Linked DNA regions of Homo sapiens. The protein of the gene in region 1 purifies or fractionates together with the protein of each later gene. This does not show direct contact. Each region holds a gene or a part of one and is shown in the gene's direction. Other genes may lie near its edges. The genes, in order: ADGRG1, TMEM184A, ACKR3 and TMEM169.

Region 1 (4,867 bases):
TTTGGCACCTATGTCCCTGGCTACCTACTCAAGCTGAGCGCCATGGGCTGGGGTAAGTGGTTGGGCGGGGGGTGCCTCAGACCTGCCTCTCCCACTTGGCTCTGGCAAAACCCAGGCACCTGGTTCTGCCTCTCCACCTATCTCTCTGACTTCCCTCCTGGCCTCCTTCACTCATCCTCAGGTGTCCTTCACCTTGGCTGAATCAAGGTCCCCTTTAGGAAGAAGCAGTGAGCCCTGTCCCCAAGAAACACTTCCAAATTCTCCACATCACTCACTCCATTGCAAAGGGGATTTACGAGCAGGGCCACCGTGTGTGAATGTGCAGGTTGTGCACTGCTCAAAGGCACCCAGTTCAGAGATCAGAGGGGCTGAAATCCAGTCCCGCTCCAGTCATTTAATTCACTCGGGCTGGCAGTGGCCCTGCCTCAGGATCCCCCTGGACCTTGGGTAACAGATTCCCTGTGGCTTGGCATTTTGTTCTTGGCCAATGACTGTTCAATTCACCTGTGGCCAGCCCTCTTATGTCAGACCTACAGCCCAGGGGCTCATGATGCCACAAGTCTGTTTGGACATTGCACAGACCCCTCAACCTCCGCATGCCCCTGACTCCAGCTTGCTGCTCTTCGCGGGTTTGTCATTGGGCCCCTTCTTTGTCCATTCCCCCATTTGCATGAAATTCCTTTGGAGGTGTCTCTGTGTCAGGACTTTGTGTTTGGAGGTGGGCAGCCCCCTCTAGGGAGCTTCTAATCTCCACCGAACGGGCGAGGTCAAGGCCCAGTGCAGACGTCCCCTGATGGCAGAACTCTTGCCGTCCCTCCTAAACTGTCTGCCCCTCCCATCTCCCCTGTGACATCCAGCCCTGCAGCAGAGACCCACAGGCCTTTCTCCCAGGGGCCCCCAGGGTGACGAAGGGCAGGGCTAAGGTTGGAGGAGATGGCATCCCCTTATAGGAAACCCATACTGGAATGGGGAGGGGGAGGGTCCAAACTTGGGGGAACTTCCCCACCAGATGGGGCTGGGTGGGCTTCAGGAGCCCAAACTTCAGAGGGGCCCTTGCCCTCCAGACTCCCTGAGGCCAGCAGGGAATGGGCAGGCCTCAGAGAGCGGGAAGTAGAGCAACATGCATTGCCACCCTCAGGCTTCCCCATCTTTCTGGTGACGCTGGTGGCCCTGGTGGATGTGGACAACTATGGCCCCATCATCTTGGCTGTGCATAGGACTCCAGAGGGCGTCATCTACCCTTCCATGTGAGTGGCTGTGTGCAATGGGGGCAAGAAGGTGGGTCTCTGGGCACAGAGGCCAGAGTGCAGCCCGGGCCCAGGTCATGCTGGCCAGGGGACACCTGGGTTCCAGTCTCCTCGAGGAATTGGCCTGGCAGTGGCTGAAGCACTGGTCTAAGAGTCATGGAGGGTGAGAAAAGGCCTGGATCTACCACTCACTCACCAGGTGACCTTGCACAGGCCCCGGCCCTTCTCTGAGCCTCGGTTTCCTCATGCATGAATGGGGGTATGGGTTGGAGCAGATGAGCCTCACCACATTCCTCAGCAGCACCTCTCTGTCTCCCCATGCAGATGGGAAGACAGAGGCTCAGGGAGGGAAGAGATCCGCTCTTGGCCACACTGAGGGCTGGTGTGCTGTTCGGAGGCAGAGGATGAGTGGGGTTGAAGTCCAGTCCTTCTCCACTCACCTGATTCACCCAGGCTGGCAGCGGCCCTGCCTGTGGATCCCCTGAACCCAAACCGGAAGCCAGGGTTCCTGAGCTCCAGCCTGGGAAGGAATCCTTCCCATTGGCTCAGTGGTTTTGAAATTTTCAGCTCTTTATGTTGTGACCCAGTGATTTCTGCCTCACTTTTGTACTATCTATATTATTACTTACTTAACATTTTCCTTTAAACAATCTGACTTGTTAACTCAAATGTATTTTTAAAATTACATCAACACTGTAAATAGAAAACAAGCGCACTTGCTGTAAACAGTGGATAATCCTGAAAACAAACATGACAACCACAGCCCAGGAAATGCTGCCCGTGCTGGCCACACGCTGAGCCCTCCTGCCTTTGCCCGCAGGTGCTGGATCCGGGACTCCCTGGTCAGCTACATCACCAACCTGGGCCTCTTCAGCCTGGTGTTTCTGTTCAACATGGCCATGCTAGCCACCATGGTGGTGCAGATCCTGCGGCTGCGCCCCCACACCCAAAAGTGGTCACATGTGCTGACACTGCTGGGCCTCAGCCTGGTCCTTGGCCTGCCCTGGGCCTTGATCTTCTTCTCCTTTGCTTCTGGCACCTTCCAGCTTGTCGTCCTCTACCTTTTCAGCATCATCACCTCCTTCCAAGGTAAGGAGAAGACCCGTCCCTTGGCCCAGGCAGGGTGTCTACACATGGAGCAAGGGCAGGGAAGAGATCACCCAGGGAACCTGAAGACTTCCCTTCTCTGGGCCTCAGTCATCCCATTCATAAAATGGGGACATCCAGGCCACAGTCAACAAGTCTTGATTGAGCACCTACTATGTGCAGGCCCTGTGTTAAGCCACAGGGCTTATGGCTGAGCTGGTTGGGTGTGGGCCTTGTTCTTTTGGAACTCAGCTCTACTGGGGAAGACTGCGCATGAGCAGGCAAGCATATAGCCATCAAAGGTGGTCCCAGATAGTAGGGACATCGTCGTGAGCACGTGCTGCACAGGGCCTCGGCTGGGGTGGGGGACACCCTAAGAAGGGTGGCCAGGGAGGCCTCTCTGGATATGAGACGTGTGAAGACAAGAGAAGGATCCCCCCATGGAGAGATGGGGGGGCCTCCCTACTCCAGGCGCGGTCCACAGACCAGCAGCAGCAGCGTTGTTAGGAGCTTTTTGGAAACGCAGCCTCTGGGCCACCCGGGCCCTGCCACATCAGAATCTGCATTTTCACAAATGCCCAAGGGGTCACGTGCACATGATAGGATCAGGAGCCCTGGTCTAGGGGAAGGAAGCTCCAGGCAGAGGGAGAGGCAAGAACAAAGATCCTGAGGTTGGAACCGGTTGTGTGTAGGAAGGACAGTGAGGGAGAGCGTGGCCAGATGGCGGCGGGTCGGGGCGGAGAGGTGGGATCCCAGGGCAGGGTCATGATGGCTCTGGCTTGATGCCAACAGGGTCCCTTTCTGTGCATGTACCTGTGTGTGTACATTGAGGTGCACACACAGGCATGCACACCCCTCTGTTCCTGGCCGTGCAGAATGGAAGGGGGTTGTATGGCCAGGCCCAGGGGCTCTCATGGGGTTCAAGGCCAGCCTCCCATACAGGGTCACCCTAGAATGGGAGCTGGGAGTTGGTGGTGGGGAGATGTTACCACATTTCGGTTATTTAACATTCAAGCCTTCATTCCTGCCTGTGAGATGAGGGGACTCAGGATTGTAAGTGAGGCCCATACATTCACACAGACATTTACTAAGCTGTGGATACATCATAGTGCTATTAATTTGAGGGGTGCAAAATCTCACAGTGCTTAAGTGGGTGGACTTCAGAGCCTGTTCACCACAGTTTGAGCCCTGGCTCAGCCACGTCCCTTTACCTGAGCCTCCTGGGCCTCAGTTTCCTTGTTTACAAAAGAGAATAGTAATGAATAGGATGGGCCTAGGAAGTTTGTGACAGTGAGAGGCCACACGGGGACGCAGCACAGTGCCCGGCTCATAGGAGGTGCTCGCTGGGTCTCATGGGTGCCCGACAGCACGTGCTTGGCAAACACTATGGAGAGGTGGGGCAGACCCGAGTCACAATGGCTGGGGAGGGAGGAGGAGGGATGGGGTGGGGCTCCCCCACCTGCTGACCCCGTGCCCTCACTGCCCGCAGGCTTCCTCATCTTCATCTGGTACTGGTCCATGCGGCTGCAGGCCCGGGGTGGCCCCTCCCCTCTGAAGAGCAACTCAGACAGCGCCAGGCTCCCCATCAGCTCGGGCAGCACCTCGTCCAGCCGCATCTAGGCCTCCAGCCCACCTGCCCATGTGATGAAGCAGAGATTCGGCCTCGTCGCACACTGCCTGTGGCCCCCGAGCCCGGCCCAGCCCCAGGCCAGTCAGCCGCAGACTTTGGAAAGCCCAACGACCATGGAGAGATGGGCCGTTGCCATGGTGGACGGACTCCCGGGCTGGGCTTTTGAATTGGCCTTGGGGACTACTCGGCTCTCACTCAGCTCCCACGGGACTCAGAAGTGCGCCGCCATGCTGCCTAGGGTACTGTCCCCACATCTGTCCCAACCCAGCTGGAGGCCTGGTCTCTCCTTACAACCCCTGGGCCCAGCCCTCATTGCTGGGGGCCAGGCCTTGGATCTTGAGGGTCTGGCACATCCTTAATCCTGTGCCCCTGCCTGGGACAGAAATGTGGCTCCAGTTGCTCTGTCTCTCGTGGTCACCCTGAGGGCACTCTGCATCCTCTGTCATTTTAACCTCAGGTGGCACCCAGGGCGAATGGGGCCCAGGGCAGACCTTCAGGGCCAGAGCCCTGGCGGAGGAGAGGCCCTTTGCCAGGAGCACAGCAGCAGCTCGCCTACCTCTGAGCCCAGGCCCCCTCCCTCCCTCAGCCCCCCAGTCCTCCCTCCATCTTCCCTGGGGTTCTCCTCCTCTCCCAGGGCCTCCTTGCTCCTTCGTTCACAGCTGGGGGTCCCCGATTCCAATGCTGTTTTTTGGGGAGTGGTTTCCAGGAGCTGCCTGGTGTCTGCTGTAAATGTTTGTCTACTGCACAAGCCTCGGCCTGCCCCTGAGCCAGGCTCGGTACCGATGCGTGGGCTGGGCTAGGTCCCTCTGTCCATCTGGGCCTTTGTATGAGCTGCATTGCCCTTGCTCACCCTGACCAAGCACACGCCTCAGAGGGGCCCTCAGCCTCTCCTGAAGCCCTCTTG
Region 2 (6,478 bases), on another chromosome or scaffold:
GCCGACTGCCTGGGGCTCTGCAGGCCGGGTGGGAGGCCGGCAGGAGTACCTGTGGCTGCAGTGGGAATGCAGCTGGATGGAAGTTGGGGACCGCCTTCCAGCACCCCTGCCTGGCCAAAGGGAGACCTTAGCCCACAGGGTCACCGCCTCAGCAGGACAGCCCCCACCCCGCAAGCCCTGTGCCCCGAGCATGGACAGGGCACAGCTCTAGGCTCTGGCAGCTCCTGCAGAGGGAGGACCAGCAGCAAACACAGACAGGTGGACAGGGAGTCACACACACAGTGAGGAGGGTGATGGGACAGCGGGGATGGTCTCTCCAGAGGTGACGCCTGAGGCTGCAGGACAGAGTCACCCGGGAGCAGGGTCGGTTGGTCCAGAAGGTCCCTGCCTGGGGAGCAGGCAGGCTCCAGGAGGGCCCAGCCAGGGTGTGCATGCTGTGGCTCTGGGCCCGGGCCCGGGTGGGCGCTGATGGGGAGGTTAGGCAAGGCGGGCCTGAGAGCTGGGCACGACTTCCTGAGCTTGTTCCCCACCTGGGAGCCTCCCTGGAGGGACAGTGTCAGTGGAGGAGTTGGGAAAAGCAGGCAGGGTGTCCCAGGGAAGGATGGGCCTCAGCCCGGGCCCCTCACGGACCCCTCAAGGATGCTGGACGCGTTGATGCGCCTCTCGTTCCCATCTCTAAAAGGGGAACAGGCCGGACGTGGTGGCTCAAACCTGTAATCCCAGCACTTTGGGAGGCTGAGGCGGGCAGATCACCTGAGGTCAGGAGTTCAAGCCCAGCCTGGCCAACGTGGTGAAACCCCGTCTTTACTAAAAATACAAAAATTAGCTAGGTGTGGTGGTGGGCGCCTGTAATCCCAGCTACTCGGGAGGCTGAGGCAGGAGAATCACTTGAACCCAGGAGGCGGAGGTTGCAGTGAGCCGAGATCGCGCCATTGTACTCCAGCCTGGCGACAGAGCGAGGCTCCGTCTCAAAAAATAAATTAATTAAAAATAAAAGGGGAACAGTGGCTCCAGTCATTCCAGCCTCAACCCCTTGAGCCCTGTTGCTCAGGGCTGTGGGAGGGTAGGAGATATGAAGGACAAGGAGTGTGTGGATCCGTTGCGGGCATGGAGCGGGACTTGGTAATGGTGGCCCCAGCGGCATGAGCCCAAGCGTAACCAGAACAGGACAAGAGGTGGGCTGAGGGCCCACATCCCTCTCCCAGGAGCCGGGGTGAGTGAGTTTTTTCTCCACAGGGGCCTCTGCATGGGGGTGACAGGGACCCTCAGGGCCCCGCAACCCCTTGCCAGACCCCAAAGGGTCCAGGGACTGGGCTGTCACTCCCCCTCTCCTGCCTTGATCCACAAAAACCAGAAATATTTCCTTTTTTTTTTTTTTTTTTTTTTGGACACAGAGTCTCCCTCTGTCCCCAGGCTGGAGTGCAGTGGTGTGATCTCAGCTTACTGCAACCTCCGCCTTCTGAGTTCAAGCGATTCTCCTGTCTCAGCCTCTTGAGTATCTGGAATTACAGGTGCACGCTGCCACACCTAGCTAATTTTTGCGTATTTCGTAGAGACGGCGTTTCACCATGTTGGCCAGGCTGGTCTCGAACTCCTGACCTCAAGTGATCCACCCACCTTGGCCTCCCAAAGTGTGGGGATGACAGGCGTGAGCCACCACGCCCGGCCCAGAAAACAAATGTTTTCAACTCATCTCTTGGGGCGTGGATTTTTTTTTTAATTCAGATGAAATTCACATAACATCAATTTACCCAGGTTTAAGTGAACGATTCGGTGGCGGTAAGTATATCCACAGTGCTGTGTGCCTGCCGCCTCTACCTCATTTCAGGACTCCTGTCACCCCCCAGAGAAACCCTGTACCATTAGCTCTCCACCCCTCCTCCTGCAGCCCGGCCCTCCTTGGCCTGCCGCAGACCTCTCCCACGTGTCCCCACCAGGTGGCAGCTGCCTGGCCGTCTGGCATAGGCAGGTGAGGGCGCCAGGCGGCCAGCAGGTTCCTGGGAGCCAGCTGCCACCCAGCAAACAACCGGGAGGATAGGGTGTCAGCCGTGGGAGGGGACAGGAGGGGACGGGCCTGCAGCCTGGGGCCCAGGTGGGCCACTGGGGACGTGAGGCACTGGCCGCCCCGCCCCAGCCTGGCACAGCCCTTCAGATCCTGGCCTTGCCGCACCCACAGTGGGGCCTCCAGTTGGGGCCACGTGGCCATGAGAATGACCAGCTAGGCTTCCCTGGAGGCCAGGCCTCCCTGGACTGGGCCAGGTGCTTCCTGCCAGCAAAGGTAGAGCTGGGCCCTGTGACCGCAGACCAGAGGGAGAGGAGGAGGCTGGACTGGGCTGCGAGTGTGGGAGAGGGTGGACTCAGGGCCCCAGCAGGTTAGTGGGAGATGGAACAGGCACCCAGGGCTGCCAAGAACCCCAGCAAAGCCGGGCTCCCAGGTGGGTGGACAGGTCCCAGAGCCAGTGAGGGCCGGCTCCTCCCATGAGGGTGGCTGCACACCCCCTCCTGCCGGGGCAGGCAGTGCTGGTCTGCGCCCGCTCCCCAGCCCTCCCGGGCAGGCAGGGCGGCAGGGGTTCCCCCTCTTCTGCCCCACTGGAAGACGGTCTTTGTCCCCTAAGAAGCAGGCTCCCTGCAAGCCTGAGACTCGGAGTTGGAAGCTGGTTTTACAAGGGGGAATTGAGGTGGGACCCTCAGGTCGCAGGTGGTTGATGGGTGAGCTTCGATGGCTGAGCTCGGAGCAGGGAGGGAGCCGGGCCTGGCGCTGGTGTCCGTGTGGGGGGTGCGGCCTGGTGGGTGGCTCAGCCTCAGCTCCCGTCTCACTGTCTCCTCCCTCCCCCGCTGCTTCCTGCTGCCGGGAGCCAGTACCTTTGCCCTCACTCCTCCCGGTGTGTGTCCTCCCTCCCTCTGCAGATGAGTAATGTCTCAGGGATCCTGGAGACAGCCGGCGTCCCCCTGGTGTCAGCGAACTGGCCGCAGCCCAGCCCCCCACCGGCTGTGCCAGCTGGGCCGCAGATGGACCACATGGGGAACAGCTCCCAGGGGGCCCCCTGGCTCTTCCTCACCTCCGCACTGGCCCGAGGCGTCTCGGGGATCTTCGTGTGGACTGCCCTGGTGCTCACCTGCCACCAGGTAAGCCCTTCCGCCCCCGAGCCTCCTTCAGGACCTTGGTCTCCACAGGACGTGGCCGTGGCTCAGCCCGGTCCCCCTGGGTGCCGCTGCTATAGACGCTGTCAGAAGTGGGATCGGCCAGGGCACGGGGGAGGGGATGAGCTTCCCCAGGATGTGGCATGTGGGAGCTGGGCCTGAAAATGGGGAGATCTCTGCCAGGCTGAGGGCAGAGCGCCCACCGGGCACCCCTGGCTATTTCACAGGCTCGTCACTCGGCTCACTGAGGTCTGCAGTGTGGTCCCATTTCACAGACAAGAAGACTGAGTCTCAGAGAGACCAGAGGTCTTTCCCAGGCTCACATAGCTGGAAAGGGGAAGGGGCCTTCTCCTTCCAGAGGCGTGACACCCTGGAGAAGGCTGGTGGGAGGTTGGCAGGGGGTTGGACTTTGCTCTGTAGGGAGCTGGGGAGCAAAGGTCACAGCTTGTTAGAGGGACCGGGACTCCTGTGCAGGAGATGGGCGAGAAGCAACTTCCCCAAGCCCGAAGCCACACACAGCCCCCGACCCGGAGCAGTCCCCAGGTGGGAACAGAACAGCCCCCAGGTAGAGAAGCGGCCAGGCGCTGTGGCAAGGAAGGGCCAGGCAGGGGCAAGGAGGAAGTGGTGCCCGAGGGCAGGGGCTGGGCAGAGAGGGCAGGGAGTCAGGGACAGGACCCTCCTGAGAGACTCAGATACACAGAGAGGCCAGGGCGGTGTGCGCAGGGGTGGGGTGGGAGTGCGTGTGTAGGCCCGCGAGGGCCACACGGCTGCAGGGATTTGTCCAGAGCCCTTGACCCCAGTGCGGTGAGGTGGCTTTCAGGGGGTGCTGGGAGCCCAGGAAGGCTGTGGAGGGCTGGGCTGAGGGCAGAGCTGCTTCCCGGGTGCACGGGGCACTGGTGTAGGGAATGGATCTGTAGGTGAGCTGGGGCAGGGGGCCATCAGGAGACTGGCAGGCAGGGACACCGGTGGCCACAAGTCTCCGAGGGAGCATCTCAGTGACAGTTTATTAACTGCTTATTAGCCGGGCATGGGGGCCTGCACTGTTAGTCCCAGCTACTTGGGAGGCTGAGATGGGAGGATCGCTTGAGCCCAGTTCAAGGTTGCAGTGAGCTGTGAACAGATAACCAGAACCCACGGTAGACGTGTATGAGTGTGGCCTGGAGTGTGCAGAGCCGCGGAGGCAGTGCCGAGGCAGGCCCTTCCTGTAAGGCCATCAGAGAGGGCTTCCCGGAGGAGGCCGTCTTTCCGCTGTAATCCTGGGAACCGGCTGTGTGTGCGCGGCTGTAGTGTGGCTTTAGCTTCATGGGGCCTCGCAGTCAAGACAGGGCTCATGGAGACCCCTTGGGCTGGAGTTCAGGCCCTGTCCCACCCCTGAGCCCACCGCCAGAGTCACCCTTGAGTGAGGAGTCCCAGGCAGGACACAGAGTGGCTGGATCCCCCTCACTTTATACATGGGAGGACCGAGGCCGGAGAGGACAGTGGCTTGTCAAGGTCACCCAGCCAGGCAGCGCCAGCCCCGGGAGAGGTCTCCTGATGGCTGGTCATGCCGTCCCTCCCAGGGACCATCGGGGAGCGTGTGACTGATAAGAGTCTGTTCCTGCCTCCAACCTCCCCCAACTCCCTGAGCTGCACCCCAAGCGGCCAGGTGCACGTAGCCTCTGCTCGCCCACCGCCACGCATGCACCTCCTCCAGAAGGCCTTCCCCAGGAGCCCCTGTGCGCCCAGCTCCCAGGCTCGGCTGACCCTGTCTCAAAGACCCTGTAGTTGAGTTGTATCCTCACAGAAAACATGGAAAATCGGTCAGGCGTGGTGTCTCACACCTGTAATCCCAGCATTGTGGGAGGCCAAGGCGGGTGGATCACCCGAGGTCAAGAGTTTGAGACCAGCCTGGCCAACATGGGGAAACTCTGTCTCTACTAAAAATACAAAAATTAGCCGGGCATGGTGGTGCGCGCCTATAATCCCAGCTACTCAGGAGGCTGAGGCAGGAGAATCACTTGAACCCGGGAGGCGGAGGTTGCAGTGAGTTGAGATTGCGCCACTGCACCCCAGCCTGGGCAACAGAGCAAGACTCCGTCTCAATAAAAAAAATAATAATTAAAAATTAAAAAAAATAAAAACGTGGAAAATCTAGAAAGGTTTAAAGGCAAACACTACTATAATCACCCATACTTTTTCCCAGGCTTTCTTTTTTTTTAGGCAGGATCTCACTCTGTGACCCAGGCTGCAGTCCGGTGGCACAATCAGTGCTCACTGCAGCCTCCGCTTCCCGGATTTAAGCCATCCTCCCACCTCAGCCTCCCGAGTAGCTGGGACTGCAGGCGCCCGCCACCACGCCTGGCTAATTTTTGTATTTTTTAGTAGAGATGGAGTTCGCCCTGTTGACCAGGCCGGTCTCGAACTCCTGAGCTCAGGTAATCCGCCCACCTTGGCCTCCCAAAGTGCTAAGATTACAGGCGTGGGCCACCGTGCCTGGCCCCTAGGGAGGGACAAATTCTTAGGAATCAAAGGGTGCACATCCTTTGGATGCCCCCACAGCAAAAGCCAATGTGCCTTCTGAGAGTCTGCCCAGCCCAGGACCGGGACGTGTCCCCTCTCCGTCCCCCGGGTTGGACACTTAGCTGGGCTCTAGAAACGCCTGCTGAATGAAGGAATGAGTGAGCGTTCCCATTCCCAGGCTAAGAACAAACAGGACCCTCACTCATGCCCAAGGAACTTATTCAGAAAAAAAAAAAAAAAAAACCTATTGTACAACATGGTGACTGTTATAAATAACAATGTATTCTATGCTTGAAAATTGCCAAGAGAGTACATTTTACATGTCCTCCCCGCAAAGAAATGCTAAGTATGGGAGATAATGGAGACGTTAATGGGTTTGACTCAGCCATTCCCCACGAACACACATATCAGACATCGCGCTGCACACTGTAAATGCATACAATTTTGATTTGCCAATTTAAAAAATAAATTTTAGGCCAGGTGCAGTGGCTCATGACTATAGTCCCAGCACTTTGGGAGACGGAGGCAGGAGGATCCCTTGAGCCTAGGACTTTGAGACCAGCCTGGGCAACACAGTGAGACCCTGTCTGTACAAAAAATACAAAAATTAGCCAGGCAAGGTGGTGCACACCTGTAGTCCCAATACTCAGCAGGCTGAGGTAGGCAGATCACTCGAGCCCGGGAGTTCAAGGCTGCAGTGAGCCATGATTGTACCACTGCACTCCAGTCTGGGCGACAGAGCGAGACCCTGTCTCAAAAAAAACCTGGGCAAGAGAGCGAGACCATGTTTCTCAAAAAAATATTTTTTTTTTTTTGAGAAAGGGTCTCGCTCTGTCGC
Region 3 (5,463 bases), on another chromosome or scaffold:
GGAGAAGGGGGTGACGTTTTATTGAGCATCGGCTAGGGCCAAGCTCTCAATTAGGCCCTTTCTTCTTTCTTCTTAGGGTATCTGTGAGATAGGTGCTGCTGTCCTGGGGAGGTAGATGCAGACAGATTAACTCTCAAGGTAAATGCTAATGAATAGAGGAGCCAGAATCCCAACCCAGGAATGTCTGATCTCGGAGTGGGCGGCTTCCCAGCTGTGGCTTTGCATACCGCTAGCGTAGCCACCCGGACCCTGATCCCCTGACCCTTGTCCTTGATCCTCCAGGAAATTCTCATATGTAACCTGGAATCCACTTTAAATGAACTCGGTAAATAATGTCTTGACTCTAGGCCAGTCATTACCTGGGACAGGTGAGGGGGAAGGGCAACCACCTGACTATGTCACTGTCAACAGTGCATCCTTGGGCTGAGGTTTTCATTTTACAGTGGGGTTCAGGCAGGGCTAATTGCTGACCCAGGACTGTGGCCTGGAGGGATTTCAGGGCCTTCCCATGGGCGGACTGACAGTAGAAGACAGCCCCTGTCAGTCTATCTGAAGAAATCAGTGCCAGATAACAATGGTACCCCGTGGCTGAATTCTGGCTGGGAGTGAAATGGTGATGGAGTGTTGGTCTCACCTCAGGTCAGCAGGGAAAACAGTTGGGAAAATGGTCAGCCCTCCTGAAATGCAGCAGGTGGTGATTTTTGTGTTTTGAGTCTTGGCACACCTTGCTGTTGAAGCAGTTGAACAAATAAAGGAATGGAAAAACAGGTGCTGACCCAAAGCTTGAGACAGCTGGTTGGTTGCCCTTCGTTGAAAACCACACGGCCAACCCAGAGTCTTCAGGTTTGGGGCGCAGTTAAGCTGTGGGGCACCCTGCGTAGGCTCACTGTGTTTCCAGAGGCTTTATGACTGCACACTGGGGCCGCCTGAGACCCAGGTTTATATGTGAATTTAGCAGACAAGTAAAAAGTGCTGAGTCACATTATAAATGCAAATTTGGAGGAGGATTTGAAATGCTTTCATTAAGACACCAAAGCAGGACACTTGTAATACAGCAGTGCCAGGAGAGGACAACCCTGCCATTCTTTGGGGACCTAGATAAAATGGCTCCACTGTCCCCTGCTGAGAGTGAGCAGGCCATCAGCATCGCGGTGGCCGGGGCTCAGCTGCCTGACGTTTCTTTGGCCCCTGTACTGTGTTGATTTCACACACTGGGCACAGCCATGCTGGCGGTGTCTTGAGAACACAGCCATGAAAAGATGGAGAAAGCAAACACAGTTTCTGTCTTGGAGCACCACATGGATTTAGATTCAGAGTATGATTTATTTTGTTTTGGAGAGTTTTATTATGAATTTTTTTTCTCCCTTCTTTGCAAAGACATTACAGAGCTAAACCCAAACAGCTGAGCCTATCAGGGCCTTGGAAAAGCATTTTTGCCTGAAACTTGAGTTTTTCCTAATGAAGTGACTTTCCTCTTCCATCTTTTTTGTTTGCTTGGTTTTCTCATAGGTCATTTGATTGCCCGCCTCAGAACGATGGATCTGCATCTCTTCGACTACTCAGAGCCAGGGAACTTCTCGGACATCAGCTGGCCATGCAACAGCAGCGACTGCATCGTGGTGGACACGGTGATGTGTCCCAACATGCCCAACAAAAGCGTCCTGCTCTACACGCTCTCCTTCATTTACATTTTCATCTTCGTCATCGGCATGATTGCCAACTCCGTGGTGGTCTGGGTGAATATCCAGGCCAAGACCACAGGCTATGACACGCACTGCTACATCTTGAACCTGGCCATTGCCGACCTGTGGGTTGTCCTCACCATCCCAGTCTGGGTGGTCAGTCTCGTGCAGCACAACCAGTGGCCCATGGGCGAGCTCACGTGCAAAGTCACACACCTCATCTTCTCCATCAACCTCTTCGGCAGCATTTTCTTCCTCACGTGCATGAGCGTGGACCGCTACCTCTCCATCACCTACTTCACCAACACCCCCAGCAGCAGGAAGAAGATGGTACGCCGTGTCGTCTGCATCCTGGTGTGGCTGCTGGCCTTCTGCGTGTCTCTGCCTGACACCTACTACCTGAAGACCGTCACGTCTGCGTCCAACAATGAGACCTACTGCCGGTCCTTCTACCCCGAGCACAGCATCAAGGAGTGGCTGATCGGCATGGAGCTGGTCTCCGTTGTCTTGGGCTTTGCCGTTCCCTTCTCCATTATCGCTGTCTTCTACTTCCTGCTGGCCAGAGCCATCTCGGCGTCCAGTGACCAGGAGAAGCACAGCAGCCGGAAGATCATCTTCTCCTACGTGGTGGTCTTCCTTGTCTGCTGGCTGCCCTACCACGTGGCGGTGCTGCTGGACATCTTCTCCATCCTGCACTACATCCCTTTCACCTGCCGGCTGGAGCACGCCCTCTTCACGGCCCTGCATGTCACACAGTGCCTGTCGCTGGTGCACTGCTGCGTCAACCCTGTCCTCTACAGCTTCATCAATCGCAACTACAGGTACGAGCTGATGAAGGCCTTCATCTTCAAGTACTCGGCCAAAACAGGGCTCACCAAGCTCATCGATGCCTCCAGAGTCTCAGAGACGGAGTACTCTGCCTTGGAGCAGAGCACCAAATGATCTGCCCTGGAGAGGCTCTGGGACGGGTTTACTTGTTTTTGAACAGGGTGATGGGCCCTATGGTTTTCTAGAGCAAAGCAAAGTAGCTTCGGGTCTTGATGCTTGAGTAGAGTGAAGAGGGGAGCACGTGCCCCCTGCATCCATTCTCTCTTTCTCTTGATGACGCAGCTGTCATTTGGCTGTGCGTGCTGACAGTTTTGCAACAGGCAGAGCTGTGTCGCACAGCAGTGCTGTGCGTCAGAGCCAGCTGAGGACAGGCTTGCCTGGACTTCTGTAAGATAGGATTTTCTGTGTTTCCTGAATTTTTTATATGGTGATTTGTATTTAAATTTTAAGACTTTATTTTCTCACTATTGGTGTACCTTATAAATGTATTTGAAAGTTAAATATATTTTAAATATTGTTTGGGAGGCATAGTGCTGACATATATTCAGAGTGTTGTAGTTTTAAGGTTAGCGTGACTTCAGTTTTGACTAAGGATGACACTAATTGTTAGCTGTTTTGAAATTATATATATATAAATATATATAAATATATAAATATATGCCAGTCTTGGCTGAAATGTTTTATTTACCATAGTTTTATATCTGTGTGGTGTTTTGTACCGGCACGGGATATGGAACGAAAACTGCTTTGTAATGCAGTTTGTGACATTAATAGTATTGTAAAGTTACATTTTAAAATAAACAAAAAACTGTTCTGGACTGCAAATCTGCACACACAACGAACAGTTGCATTTCAGAGAGTTCTCTCAATTTGTAAGTTATTTTTTTTTAATAAAGATTTTTGTTTCCTAAAAATGCATCAAGTCTCAGTTTTCAAAGTGTGTTTTGGCACTTGAATAGCACACATGATAATAATTCATGGATATATATGGCACACACAGGCCACCTGCATGAACATGCTCAGAAAAAGAGTGCTGCTGTAAAGCAAAAGCTACCAGGTTAACTTGTTTGAAATGATATAAAAAGAAAAAATCATTTGAGCACACTGCATGGTTTTTAAAAAAATTTTCAGGCAATAGTGTTTTTGGTGTGGGGGATGATTGCTAGGGTCCAGCTAGGAGAGAAGGCTGGCACAGAGAAGGTGCCACTTGCTTCTACTTCCTGCTGGCCAGAGCCATCTCTGTTCTGAACCTGTCTGAACTCTCCGTCCAGACAGGAGAGTTTCAGGGTGCAGGACTGGTGTCCTCATCTGTACCACCTGTGTGCTTCCAGGGCCAGTGGCACAGCCCCTTAAATCTCATCTGCTAAGGTAAACACCTCCAGGGGCAATATTTCCTATTGAGAGTTTTCATTTAAACCATGCCAATCAGCTACCCCCTTGAGGCCACACAATGAGCGAATCCCCAGCTTGCGCATGTCCTTACTAGTGGTTGGAAAGAGTGCTCTCAGAATGGCCAGTTCCTGCTGTGCCCTCTCTAACTCTACCTGGAGCCACAAGAATGGCGGAGACTTCAACAGACGAGTCAGCTGGGCAGGGGCTCAGAGAGGGGCTGGGCTCCCAGCACTGCCCTCACCACCTCCACCTCTGCCAAGACCTCTCTGCACAGAGAGCTGTTTGCCAACCCAAAGGCAGACCCAGATGCTCGTCTGACCTGTGGGCTTGGGCGCTGCTGCTAGGTTGGAAAGCACCTTGTGCAAGTCCTTGCCCCACAGACCCACAATGGGCAGCCCTGCAGTCCCCAGGGGCCCATAGACCGAGTGCACTACAGGGGAATCCTATTTCCTGCAAAGGTCTTCACAGCTTAGAGTTTTGAAACTAGGGCTGTAACTTACTGGAAATATGTTCTTGATACACATGTACATCCTCAGGTGCATATATACACCTGGTCTTCAGTGGGATTCTGGTCCGATAACAATGATGTAGATAGTGGGATAACAGCATACAAGAGGCAAAGATACCAAGAAGAAGGGAAAATAAGAGTAGGTAGGATGGCAACATGGAATCGGGAAAGTTCTCGACCCAAATATGTGTTCCTTGACGATAAAAATGGCTTGCATGTTTGCTGTGAGCCTTCTAGGGGTCAAGTTCAGGCAGAAATACACTTTTCCAGTAGTAAATTCAAAATGGGGAGGGGGAGGAGGGCATCAATTGCAGTCCACATGCTCAGCCTTGCAATAGATGGGCGGTAAAAGGCATTCAACTGAACTGCTATGCTGAATTGCCATCGCGGTCCATCCAGCGGTCTCTCCCACCCGCTTACCCTAGAATTTCAGTAGGTTCCCGGGGGCTAACAGTGCTGGGGTGGGTGAGGGTCTTTCAGGCTTGTGTGTCTACGTGGATGTCTGAGAGGACCTGTCGATCCTTCTGCAGGGCTCCTCTGCCACCCCAGTTCATGTGGCTCTTGCTGCTGCTTTTGCCTCGCTGGATGGTGAGACTGGTCTGGCCCTTTTCTGTTTTTCTGCTGTTCTGCAGCCTGGGGGCTGCCCCAGCTGCCTCCTCCCACACTGCAGTGGAGGGGGTGGGGAGGGAGGGTGACACTGAACTGGACCCGGACTCACCAGGTGGCACCTTTTGCTTTGGGGGGATTTTCCATCTCCCACAGGGCCCAGGGCACCGTGGCCTACTGTCCCAGACCCTCCGACGTCCCTGGGGTCTGCTGTCTGCAGGGGCAGGCTCCATCTCGGGAATGCTCCAGTGACTGTGTTCTTTCTGTTCCTTCTAGAAATCCCCTTCTTTGTCCTGCCTGGGGCTGGAAGACTTGCTGGTTTATTCCTAGTTATCTGGACTCAAAATCTCTTTCCTTTGATTTCCACTGCAGGGTCCTTCCCTGGAGCCAGGTGGGATAACAGAGGCTGGGTCAAGGGACACAGAGTGTCCTGAGGGGAGGGGAGTT
Region 4 (4,616 bases), on another chromosome or scaffold:
CATTTGCATCATGTCTGTATCAAAGTTCGTCACACTCCTCCGTGCCACAGAGATTGTGCCAAGATTGAGGCCCCAAAAAGCGGAGAGAGTAGGTGAAAAGCTTAACCTGCCTCACAATTTTATCAGGGCCCAGGCACAAGGACTGAGAGTTCATGTGGGAGCAATAACACCAGTGGTCACTCTCCCGAGGGAGACCCACTCAGTCCGCCATTGAATCACTGACTCAGGACTGTGCCAGATGGTGTAAAAAAGGCTACTCTTGTCCTCATGCCCAGCCTGGGAGGGTGCAACATGGAGATGCAATGCCCACTCTTCTGATCTTGACTCTCACCTCCTTTGTACCCTGCAGATATGTGGAACCTGCCTCTGGACAGCCGCTACGTCACCTTAACTGGGACCATCACACGAGGGAAGAAAAAGGGTCAGATGGTGGACATCCATGTCACATTGACAGAGAAAGAGCTGCAGGAACTGACCAAACCTAAAGAGTCATCAAGGGAAACGACGCCTGAAGGAAGAATGGCCTGCCAGATGGGAGCTGACCGTGGGCCCCATGTGGTCCTCTGGACGCTGATCTGCCTGCCTGTGGTTTTCATCCTTTCTTTTGTTGTCTCTTTCTACTACGGCACTATCACCTGGTACAACATCTTCCTCGTGTATAATGAGGAAAGGACCTTCTGGCACAAGATCTCGTATTGCCCTTGCCTCGTTCTCTTCTATCCAGTGCTCATCATGGCCATGGCTTCTTCCCTCGGCCTCTACGCTGCTGTGGTCCAGCTCTCGTGGTCCTGGGAAGCATGGTGGCAAGCTGCCCGGGACATGGAGAAAGGCTTCTGTGGCTGGCTCTGCAGCAAGCTGGGTCTGGAGGACTGTTCTCCCTACAGCATTGTGGAGTTGCTTGAATCCGACAATATCTCAAGCACTCTCTCCAACAAGGACCCCATCCAAGAAGTAGAAACCTCCACGGTCTAAACTCCCAACAACTTACTCCCTCCTCTGGCCCCAGTAGCCTATATATCATCTTAAAATTCCAGCAGATTATTTCTTTAAATTACCCCCTACTCTCCGCAGTTCTTCTGGGAAATCAGAGTCCATACTGATCAGTTTTACCATCTTGAGGGTTCCAGGAGGGCATGGAGCAGACAAGCAATTGTGCCAAAGCAGTTCACCCAATGGACAAACTCTTTTTGATTCCCTGCCCTAAAATCACCATTTATTTAGGACAATGGAACTCTGCTGTGTGTCGTTTTGGGAGCCTGGAAGTGTTACTGGTGCCTGGAACTGAGGGGAGTATGTGACTAAATGTGTCAGGGAGAATAAAGAACCTCGGGGTAACCAAATCCACCAAGATAATAGACAGGGATGGAGTGAGACATTTAGGAAGCTGGACTACCACAGTGTAGCAGAAGGTAAAGATTTGTGTGTATCATTTAGATTTAGATTTAGCTGCATAGAATTAAAACCCTAAAATATCAGTGGCTTAAACAAGATAGAAGTGTATTTCTTTCTTGTGCAGAAGAAGTCTGGAGGCAGACCATCCTGGGACCCTGTGAAGTAATCCAGGTCCCAGGCTTCTTCTATTTCTCTACCATTAGTAGGATGTGACCCTTCTCACCCTTATCCCCAACATCCCAGTGCTGATTACATCTTCAGCCATCACATCCATGTTTCTGATAAAATAGAGGAAAGGGCAGAGAAGCACACACCCTTCCTGTTCAAGGAGACTTCCCAGAAGTCCCACTCGATTCTTCTTATATCTCATTGGCAAGACCTCAGTCACATGATGTCATGAGCAAAAGAGGCTGGAAATGTAGTTGTTTGGCTGGGTAGCTATATTCTCAGCTAAATACTGGGTTCACGCTAATTGGCAAGAAAAAGGAAGAATGGTTATTTGGGTTTTGTTTTGTTTTGTTTTGTTTCGCTTTAGAGACGGAGTCTCACTCTGTTGCCGAGGCTGGAGTGCAGTGGCACTATCTCGGCTCACTGCAACCTTCGCCTCCTGGGTTCAAGCAATTCTTGTGCCTTGGCCTCCCCAGTAGCTGGGATTACAGGTGCGTGCCACCATACCCGGCTAATTTTTGTATTTTTTTTTTAGTAGAGATGGGGTTTCACCATGTGCCCAGGCTGGTCTTGAACTCCTGACCTCAGGTGATCCGCCTGCCTCGGCCTCCCAAAATGCTGGGATTGTAGGCAAGAATGGTTATCTTGGTAGGCAAGTCAGAATCTTTGCCTCACAATGATCATTTAAATACATTCAGAACCCCCAAACTGCTAATATGGTTTTATTTATTTATTTATTCATTCATTTGTTTATTCATTTATTTATTTAGGCCTGAATCTTACACAGAGAATTTATATATAGATATTAGCTACATATACTTTGAATATGCTATACATCGATATTAGCACCTCACGTACTTTGCAATTAAGCTTCTGTAATGTCATGTGATTTGTTTTTGGAAAGGAATAGTGGACAGGAGAGTACAATTTATAATAGTAGCATAACTCTTTGTCCTGGTGGTGGAGGTGGGACGAGGTGGTGATATTTAACCTAGATTAAAGACCAGGAAGGGAGGAATTGCATCTGCCAAAGTTTCCTCCAACAGCGATCAGTAGCCCTAAGTACAAAGAAGCCAGATTTAGCCTTCTGTTGTTTGGCAAAACCTCACTCAGAGCTTTACTCCCTCAGACCTTTCTGAGTTTAACCACAGACATGATCTTTGCTGTGCTGAGAAACTTGTGTCTACCTGGCCTGTAGGGAGTGTAAACTAGATTAATACAGATTAACAGACTCTGAACTTAAAAAAAAAAATCACTCCTAAGGGTGTCCTTCTAATTTCAAAATATCAACTCCTAAGAGGTCAGCAGAATTTGGAGATTTGGGTCCTTATAAGAATAGCTGGTGCTCTTTTCTTGTTCATGTCTCAAAACAAAGCTGTTGAGAGAACTGCTGCGATGAATCAAACCAGAGGAGTTTGTCATGCTCCCCACAGAGAGCCCAGGACATTTGCCTGATGTATGGTGCTGAGCTCCACCTTCAGAGGAACTCTCTCTTTTTTTTTTTTTTAAATAACTATTATTAGCTTGACAAGAAAAAAAAAGTGCCCAACAGTTTTAGTGTTAATCTTGGTGCTCTATGGTGCATTAGCAGAGATATGAACAATTAAATGAAGACAAAGAAAATAAAAATAAAGTCTGATTAACTTTTGCTCATTTTGTCTTTGAGGCTCTTCAAAATTGCTTTGAATGCTATGGTTTGCAGAAAAAGGGTGAGCATGATGGCTGTCCTATATGTATGTAATGATTTTAATATGAATCCTTGTGTCTGGACTCTTTCCATGCTTCACTAATTTTGGGGAATTCTATTTAGGTGGACTGTTTTCACAAACCACACTAGAAACTTGCAACCACATTTGTCCCATTTTTCTGGGGTTGGGGAAACCAATGGGAAAAGCCAAAAAGTTGTGATTAGGACACAGGTAAAGTGGCTGTGGTGCCATGGAAGAGTGTGGGATGATGATGAGATCATACCCAAGAGATACCTAGATAAAGTTGACATGGCCTTCATCCTAGTTGGGCTCATCATCTAGTGGAAGAAATAGGCTTGTAAATTAAAACCATTTCAAAGGGGTTCTATAGAGGTATGTAAAAGCCTAGACTAGAGGAAGGAAAAACAGAACCAAACAGAACCAAAGCATCTCATTTTTGCTCTCAGCAAACACCACAGAGACCATCAGAGGAGAAACTGGAGAGTTCAATACCATATTTGAACAATTCTTTTGGCTCATAGTTGCCTAATCATCGTGGTGAATATCAAGGAAGATGACTATATTTTCCAGTTGCTTAGCAGCCATAATGTGCTGAGCTGGATAAACCATGTCTGGCCCATAGGGTGACACTGATGTGTTTCCAAGTCATCTTGTCTATTGACATTAGGTAGCACCCTTCATTTCACTTCACATCCAAGAAGAATAAAACCCATGATTTTCTATAAAACAAGATTCTAAATCTTAAAAATAACCAATTTCAGATGATGTGAAAGTTTCATTCTGCCATTTTGGAATGGCCACCCAGAGCTTAATTTGTGCAGTGTTGAAAAATATTAGTGGACATCTTACTACTCACATCTGTTTGGGATATAAACTTTTTTTTTTGAGATGGAGTTTCGCTCTTGTCGCCCAAGCTGGAGTGCAATGGTGCAATCTCCGCTCACTGTAACCTCCGCTTCCTGGGTTCAAGTGATTCTCCAGCAGCTGGGATTACAGATGCGCCACCACCATGCCTGGCTAATTTTTGTATTTTTAGTAGAGATGAGGTTTCACCATGTTGGCCAGGATGGTCTCGATCTCTTGACCTCAGGTGATCCACCCGCCTCAGCCTCCCAAAGTGCTGGGATTACAGGCATGAGCCACCAAGCCCAGCCAGGACATAAACTTTTATTTCATATCTGTACTCTGTTAATATTCTACTTATTTTCTCAGTTACCCATATAACCATTGTAACAGCTCTCTGTCAGAACACAAAGCCTGTATATTTTAATTTTTATAGTGGTCAGGAAGTCATTACTCATAGTTCACGTTCAAGGTAATACCAAATGCAAACATATTCCAGCAACT

The links.
Region 2: the proteins of ADGRG1 (region 1) and TMEM184A purify together in Homo sapiens (co-immunoprecipitation; one large-scale study listed by IntAct). This does not show direct contact.
Region 3: the proteins of ADGRG1 (region 1) and ACKR3 purify together in Homo sapiens (co-immunoprecipitation; one large-scale study listed by IntAct). This does not show direct contact.
Region 4: the proteins of ADGRG1 (region 1) and TMEM169 purify together in Homo sapiens (co-immunoprecipitation; one large-scale study listed by IntAct). This does not show direct contact.

Annotation. Positions count from the first base shown.
Region 1 is NC_000016.10:57,659,630-57,664,496, forward strand, and holds part of ADGRG1 (adhesion G-protein coupled receptor G1 isoform b precursor), read left to right. Parts: coding exon 1-52; intron 53-1,138; coding exon 1,139-1,247; intron 1,248-2,067; coding exon 2,068-2,336; intron 2,337-3,822; coding exon 3,823-3,953; 3' UTR 3,954-4,867. UniProt on the Homo sapiens protein: Adhesion G-protein coupled receptor (aGPCR) for steroid hormone 17alpha-hydroxypregnenolone (17-OH), which is involved in cell adhesion and cell-cell interactions.
Region 2 is NC_000007.14:1,551,914-1,558,391, reverse strand, and holds the start of TMEM184A (transmembrane protein 184A), read left to right. Parts: upstream 1-2,186; 5' UTR 2,187-2,278; intron 2,279-2,907; coding exon 2,908-3,126; intron 3,127-6,478. UniProt on the Homo sapiens protein: Acts as a heparin receptor in vascular cells. May be involved in vesicle transport in exocrine cells and Sertoli cells.
Region 3 is NC_000002.12:236,578,931-236,584,393, forward strand, and holds the end of ACKR3 (atypical chemokine receptor 3), read left to right. Parts: intron 1-76; exon of another isoform or gene 77-138; intron 139-1,509; 5' UTR 1,510-1,535; coding exon 1,536-2,624; 3' UTR 2,625-3,424; downstream 3,425-5,463. UniProt on the Homo sapiens protein: Atypical chemokine receptor that controls chemokine levels and localization via high-affinity chemokine binding that is uncoupled from classic ligand-driven signal transduction cascades, resulting instead in chemokine sequestration, degradation, or transcytosis.
Region 4 is NC_000002.12:216,099,571-216,104,186, forward strand, and holds the end of TMEM169 (transmembrane protein 169), read left to right. Parts: intron 1-349; coding exon 350-972; 3' UTR 973-3,213; downstream 3,214-4,616.